Regions from separate parts of the Homo sapiens genome. Here region 2 is linked to region 1. Evidence: fine-mapped expression QTL. A gene starts in region 1. The other region holds a variant in brackets. All regions are shown on one strand. Distances are between the middles of the regions.

What was found. PIP is the estimated chance that this variant, and not a neighbour inherited with it, causes the effect.
Region 2: its variant is the best candidate, but not a certain one, in a credible set for the expression of ZNF248 in whole blood (INTERVAL, PIP 0.51).

Annotation. Positions count from the first base shown.
Region 1 is chr10:37,855,722-37,860,111 of GRCh38, reverse strand. It overlaps ZNF248 (zinc finger protein 248), which reads left to right and starts at 2,502. Exons shown (of 6, transcript NM_021045.3): 1 at 2,502-2,927; 2 at 3,580-3,677; 3 at 3,775-3,816. The coding sequence starts at 3,802. ZNF248-AS1 (ZNF248 antisense RNA 1) reads right to left here and starts at 2,363. Exons shown (of 2, transcript NR_186559.1): 1 at 1,611-2,363; 2 at 1-1,034. RefSeq lists silencers at 2,010-2,559, 2,256-2,632 and an enhancer at 2,950-3,009.
Region 2 is chr10:37,912,446-37,916,835 of GRCh38, reverse strand. No RefSeq gene overlaps it. Among named protein-coding and RNA genes, the nearest start is that of ZNF248-AS1, 57 kb to the right of the region's middle. The variant T/AT (reference allele first, on the strand shown) is at 1,953.

The DNA.
Region 1 (4,390 bases):
ACGGTTTTTGTCCCCAAACAAGGAGGGGGTTAGTTTCAGGAAGGGATCATTATCGTTCTTGTTTTAAAGTTAAACTATAGGCTGGGTGTGGTTGCTCATGCCTGTAATCCCAAGCACTTTGGGAAGCCAAGGTGGGAGGACTGAAGTCAAGAGAGCGTGCTTTCATCTTCATAGCAAGGTCATGAAAGACAAGGTAGGAGCAAGAAACTATTACAAACTGGCCAAGGCTAAGACATGACAAGTAAATGTACTGTGATACTGAGAGACAGGACTAGCTGGATTTCCTAGGCCGACTAAGAATCCCTAAGCTTAGCTGAGAAGTTGACTGCATCCACATTTAAACAAGGGGCTTGCACTTAGCTCACATCCGACCAATCAGGTAGTAAAGAGAACTAACTAAAATGCTAATTAGGCAAAAACAGTAGGTAAAGAAATAGCCAATCATCTATTGCCTAAGAGCACAGCGGGAGGGACAATGATCGGGATAGAAACCCAGGCATTGGAGCCGGCAACAGCTACCCACTTTGGGTCCCCTCCCTTTGCATGGGAGCTGTGTTTTCATTCTATTAAATCTTGCAACTGCACTCTCTTCTGGTCCGTGTTTGTTACGGCTTGAGCTGAGCTTTCGCTCGCTGTCCACCGCTGCTGTTTGCGGCCTTCGCAGACCCGCCGCTGACTTCCATCCCTCCGGATCTGGCAGGGTGTCCGCTGTGCTCCTGATCCAGCGAGGTGCCCATTGCTGCTCCCAAGTTGGGCTAAAGGCTTGCCATTGTTCCTGCACAGCTAAGTCCCAGGTTGGTCCTAATCGAGCTGAACACTAGTCACTGGGTTCCACAGTTCTCTTCCGTGACCCACGGCTTCTAATTGAGCTATAACACTCACCACATAGCCCAAAATTCCATTCCTTGTAATCCATGAGGCCAAGAACCCCAGGTCAGAGAACATGAGGCTTGCCCCCATCTCGGAAGCAGCCCACCACCATCTTGGGAGCTCTGGGAGCAAGGACCCCCGGTGACAATATCCTTGATTGGTTGCTGGAACAGAAAAAGGGCATTAGTGGAAGAACTGCTTAAGTCTGAATAAACTCTGCAGTTCAGTTAATAGTACTTGTACCTATGTTATTTTCTTAGTTTTGATAAATATACCATGGTCATGTAAAATACTAACACTAGTGGAATCTGGGTGAAAGGCATATAGGAACTATTTTGCAACTCTTCTGTAAATCTGAAATTATGAGCAAATGAAAAGTTTAAAAAAGTGGACAATGACCCAGGAGTTGATTTTTTAAATGAAAAGTTGTAACACACGCACATGCTCATAGTGTGCTGAAAATGCCAGATGTGCACGTAAAAGAATGTACGTGTAGTGTAGTTCTGGGTAAAGTATGGTTGGTTTTGGGAAATGAGTGCGTGCTTTCTTCTTCAAATTTGTTACTCAAACGGCTTTTTTTTTTTTAAACATATAAACAATTTTATGTTTGGGTCTTGAATTGCTAGCTTCTGTTTTTCCTTATTCCAGAGAATAACCATACTGGTCACAGATTTTAGTTTTCTCTTCCAGTCTTTCAGTTAAACGTTACCATGCATGATCGTGAATGAATTCAAGCACACCTTTCCTTCTCTTGGCTTGTGTCTAACAGGCACATTGATTTGATCCACAACCTCTGGGGACACTGACAGAATCCTGGTTCCAAGCAGGAGTGGGTAACTGAGACAGTAATCTCTCAACCCACTATACAAGGCTGTTTTGCAGGAGAGCCTTATGATGACCAGCATGATATATAATTGTGAGAAATATACTGAACAATTTATGTGTCAGACACCGGTTTAAATGCTTTTACAACGTAAGCGCCTCCAATTCTCATAAAACCCCTGCTAGGTAGGCACTATCAGCCTCATTTTACAACTGAGGGTTGCGGCCAGAGCTGACAGGCACCGTCTAGCGCCGCTTCCAAGCCCCGCATCGCATCCACCAGCCTAACTCGGGCGCTCGGCCTCTCCCTCTGCGCATGTGCATCCCCGCCTCCCGCTCCAGGCGAGTCCTTCCCTGGACTCCAGTCCCTTGTGGGAAACAATCCCTCGCCTCCGGAGGCGGCGAGGAGCGGCGGGTGAGCCCCGGAGCACTGGGCGAGGGCCAGGGGGTCCCCGCGCTGCCCTGAAGGCGGGCGGGCGGCGGCTAGACCTCGGCGGTGGGGAGGGACCCCTGGCGCCTGCGGCGACGGTGGGACGAGGGCGTCTCTGTCAGAAGGGGATGAGGTCTGGCGTGGGAACGCGAGTTCCGGGGCTCCCGGGGGTCCGTATGCGTCCAGTCCCTGCGCCTGGCGCTCAGCGAAGTCCTGTAGCACGGGGTAGGCAATGCGCACTGGCCCGAAGGGGAGGGAACTGGCTGCGGGGAGGGGACAGCACGCGCGTGCGTAGCGTGTGACGTTTGTTGTGCGCGTGCGCATGGCGTTTGATGTGTGCGTGTGCGCTTTTTGTGCCCTGAGCCCGCGGGGAGGAGGCGGGGCTGCGGGGGAGAGCGACTGCGCCAGGTCCGCGACAAATGAATTAGACACAATTATCCACGGGAGACTCGGTTTTCCTCTCTGTAAATTACGGATATTAGGAATACTTGCCGCCTGGGGTTGTTTTGAGCACTTTCATTGTTTAGGTGCTGTATTTATTGGGTGTGCGTTCCCTGGGAGAGCCCGAGGGAGACGGCTCCTGCACCGGCCCCAAGGGCCTCTCTGCCCGTGGAGTGCAGGAGCGAAGGGGCTGGCCTAGCTGACCACCAGGGCCCCTGCTGGCTCTGACCGCCCTCCTATCCCAAGTAATTATTTACACGTTTCGCGTTCGCTTATGTATTATGTGTAATCATGGCACAGTATCCTGAAGCCGTCGGAGTCTGTGTGCTGGTGCAAGGTCTGGGACAAATTTAAGAAGAGAGAGGTGAGCTGGAGCTGAGGGGTGGGCGCGCAGGCTAACAGGAACGTCACCTCTGGAGAGTCTGAGGGCAGGGACGGGTGAAAGGCTCACGGCCACAGCGAAAGAAATGCTGTTATCACCCCTCCGCGAACACCGGGCACATCCAGATGAGCTGCTGAGCTTCCTCCTCTCTTGGCCTGATATCCCCGCCGGATGGTAGTGCAGTCAGGTCATACTTGGGTTATCTGTTTTGACCTTATTTGAAAGATGGAAAAACAAAATTGAGTTTGAGGAGGTGAGTAGTTCAGATCTTGTCATTCCTTAGAGGCAGAACTGAGATTAGAAGTCAAGTCTGCAGTTTCCCGAGCCACTGCTGCCCATTTTGTTACTCTATATCACAGTTTCTCATTAAAAGATCCTTTTGAGGAATTGTTAGCAAGTTAGAACAAACATTTTTAAACTTGCATTTAACATCCTATCCCTTTTTTTAGAGGTCTTTTGCATTATCTAACCTCAGGGCATTAATGGTGTTAACAGGTAAACAGATAAACAATATGGCCTCAGTTTTTTTTTTTCCCTACAAGGAATTTTGACAAACCCATAGTGTTTTTTCCTTCAGATTACTGTTAACTTGTTAAACTCATCTTTTCATGTTTTTAATTTTTCTGTGTCACAGAACCTAAATTGGTAATAAATCAATAAGAAATATTTACATTCACTCAGTGAAAAGTGTCATGTCTGAGCTCAGCATATATCGGAGCCACACATGGACACGTAAGTATCTTGTGTGTGGACCTGTATAGGCAGGTGAATCTCCGAACTGCAAGGCCGGCGAAGGCTCTCCTGACATTCTTCCTTTCTAATCCTTCAGCTCTCCTTCCTCCACTAAGAGCGGAAAATGAACAAATCCCAGGTGAGATTCTTGTTTCTTTATTCCCAGTTTGTTTAAAAATGGATTTCTGAAGTTTATAAGGGTTTATGTTTTGAAAATGGAAAAATAGAAATAGGCAAAAATTGACATTAAGGGAAATAAAACTGAAGTAGCAAATCCAAAATAGTGCAGTTGGCAAATTAGATGCAGGATTTTTAATTTTGCAGAATTATCCAAGTTATTGTAATATTATCTCTAATTGTTCTAGTAACAATTCTGAAATAAATGCAGTAAATTGTCTATAAGTATTTCTTTGTAGAAACAAAGAACACAGTTACAGAGCAGAACTCAGTGCATATGCTTTTCAGGAGAACAAACGCTGAGGTTTGATGGTCCTGTTTGATCCAGGAATAAAACCTTGACGATGTGGAGGAATGGAGGGACTGCATGTCCTCAAAACAGTTTTCCCTAACTGTTTGTGTCAGCTCGTTCTTATTTCTAGGTTGAATCACTGACAGTTCCGACTTGTTTCTGTGTTTCTCATTTATGTTTCAATCTGATGAATGCAACCTTATTCCCTCACCTAAACTCACCTGAATCAGTTCTGGCAAAGGCC
Region 2 (4,390 bases), 57 kb before region 1:
TCTCAAATGCTAAAGAATGTTTCTTAGAAACATCATGCTAAGTGAAAGAAGCCAGAAACAAATAGCCACATAGTATATGATTCCATTTATATAAAATTTCCACATTAGGCAACTCCATAGAAATACAAAGTAGACGTAGCAGTTGTCAAGAATAAGGGTGAGGAAATAATTGGGACTAACTGCTAATAGAGATGGGACACTGAAACAGAAATAGGACATATAAGGAAAGTTTTGTTTTGTTTTTGAGATGGGGGTCTCACTCTGTCACCCTGGCTGGAATACAGTGGCACAATCGTGATTCACTGCAGCCTGGACCTCCCCAGCAGAGCGTGATCCTCCCACATCATCCTCTCAAGTAGCTGGGACTACAGGTACATGCCACAACATGTGGCAAATTTTTTTGTAGACACGGGGTTTCGCCATGTTGCCCAAGCTGGTCTTGAACTCCTGGGCTCAAGCAATCCACCTGCCTTGGCCTCCCAAAGTACTGGGACTACAGGCATGAGCCACCATGCCCAGCCCTATGTAGAGTCTGAAAGAAATCTCAAACTATGGACTTCAGTTAACAAAAATGTGCCAATATTGGTGTGCTAATTGTAACATACTAAGGTATGACATCAACAACCGGGGAAACAGTGTGAAATAATATATGAAAACTCTTTGTACTATCTTCACAATTTTTGCAAATCTAAATTAAAAGTTTTAAATTCTTGTAAATTTAAAATTATTCAACAAATGGTGAAAAGTATAAAAAGTGACCCATAAAAAGCAGCAAAACAGCAAACAATGAGAAAAAGTGATTGAGTTAAAGAAAAAACCTTAAATCACCAATTATAAATATGCTACATGTTTACCAACTAAAAAGAAAATGATTACAGAAAAGAAACATATAACATATGAAGCAAATGGGAATTCCAGAGATTTTCTTAAAAATCACTGAATGTGGCCAGGCGCGGTAGCTCACGCCTGTAATTCCAGCAATTTGGGAGGCTGCGGTGAGTGGATCACTTGAAGCAAGGAGTTTAAGACCAGCCTGGCCAACATGGTGAAACACTGTCTCTACTAAAAATACAAAAGCTAGCTGGGTGTGGTGGCACATGCCTGTAATCCCAGCTACCTGGGAGGCTGAGGCAGGAAAATCACTTGAACCTGGTAGGTAGAGGTTGCAGTAAGCAGTAAGCCTAGATTGCACTACTGCACTCCAGCCTGGGCAACACAGTGAGACTCCATCTCAAAAAAAAAGCAATTTCTAAAAATCCTATAAACAACAACAACAAAATGTTAAAAGGAGACAGAGAAAAAGCATACAACATATCCTGAGGAACAAAGATTTAAAAATTATCTTAGACTTGCATCACAAAGTATCCAAGCCAAAAAACAAAGGAATGAAACCTTTGGAGTATTAGAAGAAAAACACCCCTACCAATATAATCCTATAGCCATCTAAAAAATCTCCCATAAAAAGGCAAGAAATACCTTTTCATGCTCCCAAAAAACAAAAGCTGGGAACATTTATCACCAGGAAAATTGCATTACCAGAAATGTTAAATGGAATTCTGTTAAGCAAAAGAAAAAGAATACCAGATGAAAATCTGAATATCTACAAACGAATGAAGAATTTACCAAAAATGGTAAATAATGAGACAAATATAAAATATTTCTCATTCAAAAATTACTCTAAAAGGGCTGGGCACGGTGGCTCACGCCTGTAATCCCAGCACTTTGGGAGGCAGAGGCGGGCAGATCACAAGGTCAGGAGATCGAGACCATCCTGGCCAACATGGTGAAACCCGGTCTCTACTCAAAACACAAAAATTAGCTGGGCATGGTGCCTGTAATCCCTGCTACTCGGGAGGCTGAGACAGACGAATTGGTTGAACCTGGGAGTCAGAGATTGCAGTGAGCCTAGATCGCGCCACTGCACTACAGCCTCCATCTCAAAAAAAAAAAAA[T/AT]TCTTTAAAAGGTAACTGTTTAAAGCAAGCAAAATAGTATAATGCAGGATTTATTGGAAACACAGCAATGGGGCCGGGCGTGATGGCTCACACCTGTAATCCCAACACTTTGGGAGGCCAAGGCAGGTGGATCACCTGAGGTCAGGAGTTCAAGACCAGCCTGGCCAACATGGAGAAACCCCATTTCTACTAAAAATACAAAAATGAGCTGGGCATGGTTGTGCACACCTGTAATCCCAGCTACTCTGGAGGCTGAGGCAGGAGAATTGCTTGAACCTGGGAGGCGGAGGTTGCAGTGAGCCAAGATCATGCCACTGCACTCCAGCCAGGGTGACAGAGCAAGACTCTGTCTCTCTCAAAAAAAAGAAATGGAAAGTATGACAACAATAGTGCAAAACAGGAGAGGGGAAACTAAGTACACTCTAAGTTAAAGATCTATTATTATTTGAAGGTAGATTGTGATAAATTAAAGAAACTGATGTAAATTTCAAAGAAACACCTATATAATAATGTTTTTAAAGTTGATCCAAATTGTGAAAAAAATGGAATACAAAAATACATTTAAAAAGACAGATAAAGAAAAGAATAATGAAATAAATAAAAAACAATTAGTCTAAATAATATGGCATACAAACGTTTCTCCCTGTTCCTCCTTTCCTCTGGAAATAACAAGGGACAAGAAAAGGAAATTCTGAAAAGTGGTAAGAAAAAGGTAAACTGGCATATGAGCCCAGAACTGGAGGAACAATGCAACAGCATGGCACTTTATCTACACAGAATAAGGCATCCCAGACCCAACATTTCCTGACCTCCAAACTAGCAACAAAGCAGCCCTAGTAAGCTCATTCCTCTCCCTGAACTAAAGGGAGTCCCCTCTTACAGTCTCAGGCAAGCCTGAAACCCCTGGCAAAGGCGACTGACCTGGAGAATCCTCCAACAATAAACAGGCGGAGAAGTGCTCCCCTCCCCAACCAAGAGACTGAAGTAGGTGAGGCCCAGCCAAGAAAAGGTCTCATCCAGGAAGCCTCTTTGTATCCACAGGCCTAAGAATTCTCCATCCCCACCAACAGATACCTCGTGGAATGGCCTGGAGAAACTCCTTTGGCTCCTTCAGGCAGCACCAACAAGAACCAGAGGCAGGCCCATCTGTACTAGATAAAAGGAGTAGACTAAAATAACACCAGAAAGACTCTGAAAACTGTCACTGGAACCACAGCCCATAAAGGTAAGCCAAGAACTGCAAGCTGAAACCTAAAGAAGGTATCTGCCTGCAAAAATAAAAGATTGAAATAGGACTCACAGTTTCCAAACCTAAGTAGGAAAAATGTACAGGATACCTTTAAAAATCACACATCCTAACAAAAACCAACAACAACAACTTGAAAAAGAGAAGAATCAAATGACACTAACACTGAGATGGATCAGATACTGGAATCATCTGGCAGACTTTAAAGCAGCCATTAGAAATAATGCTTCAGGCCAGGTGCCGCAGCTCATGCCTGTAATCCCAGCACTTTGGGAGGCTGGGGGCGGGTGGATCACTTGAGGCCAAGAGTTCGAGACCAGCCTGGCCAACATGGCGAAACCCCATCTCTACTAAAAATATAAAAATTAGCCAGGGGTGGTGGCGCACACCTGTAATCCCAGCTACTCGGGAGACTGAGGCAGGAGAATCACTTGAACCCGGGAGGGGGAGGTTTCAGTGAGCCAAGATTGCACCACTGCAGTCCAGCCTGGGTGACAGAGTGAGACTCCATCTAATAATAATAATAATAATGATGCTTCAAAATCAATAATACAGGAGTGACATCACCAAGGTGGCTAAGCAGAAGTTCCTAGAGCTAGTGCCTCCCACAAAAACAACTAAAACAACTTCTTTCAATGAAAACAACTAAAGGAGATCAGAATAAAGCACAGGAGTCAAAGAATCTTGCAAAGCACAGAGACACAGAGAAACTCAGGCGGGCTGCACAGAGAAGGAAAGGAAATACCTCACCTCTGCCACCCCATACCCCAACTGGGATCAACTTGGAACCAGGAAGGACTTCTCCCTGTAGGGAAAAGTCATGCAGGAGGATGCCAGCAACCCCCATTACCACATGGACACCTGCAGTCTTTGCCACTGGGGACTCCTACAGGCCATACAGGTGCTGAGCCCACCTGAGGGAGCTGCTCAGAGCTACGCTTCACAGCTAGACCAGTGAAACAGCATAGACAGCCCAGAAAAAAACCAAACATATATGGTGAACTAATTTTCAGCAAGGGCACTACAAGGACACAATGAGGAAAAGGCAATCTCTTCAATAAATGGTTCTAGGAAAGCTGGTTTTTCAAATGCAAAAGAATGAAATGGGACCTTTTTCTTATATCACACAAAAATCAACTCAAAAATACATAATAGAACTAAAAATAAGACCTGAAACCATAAGACTACTTGA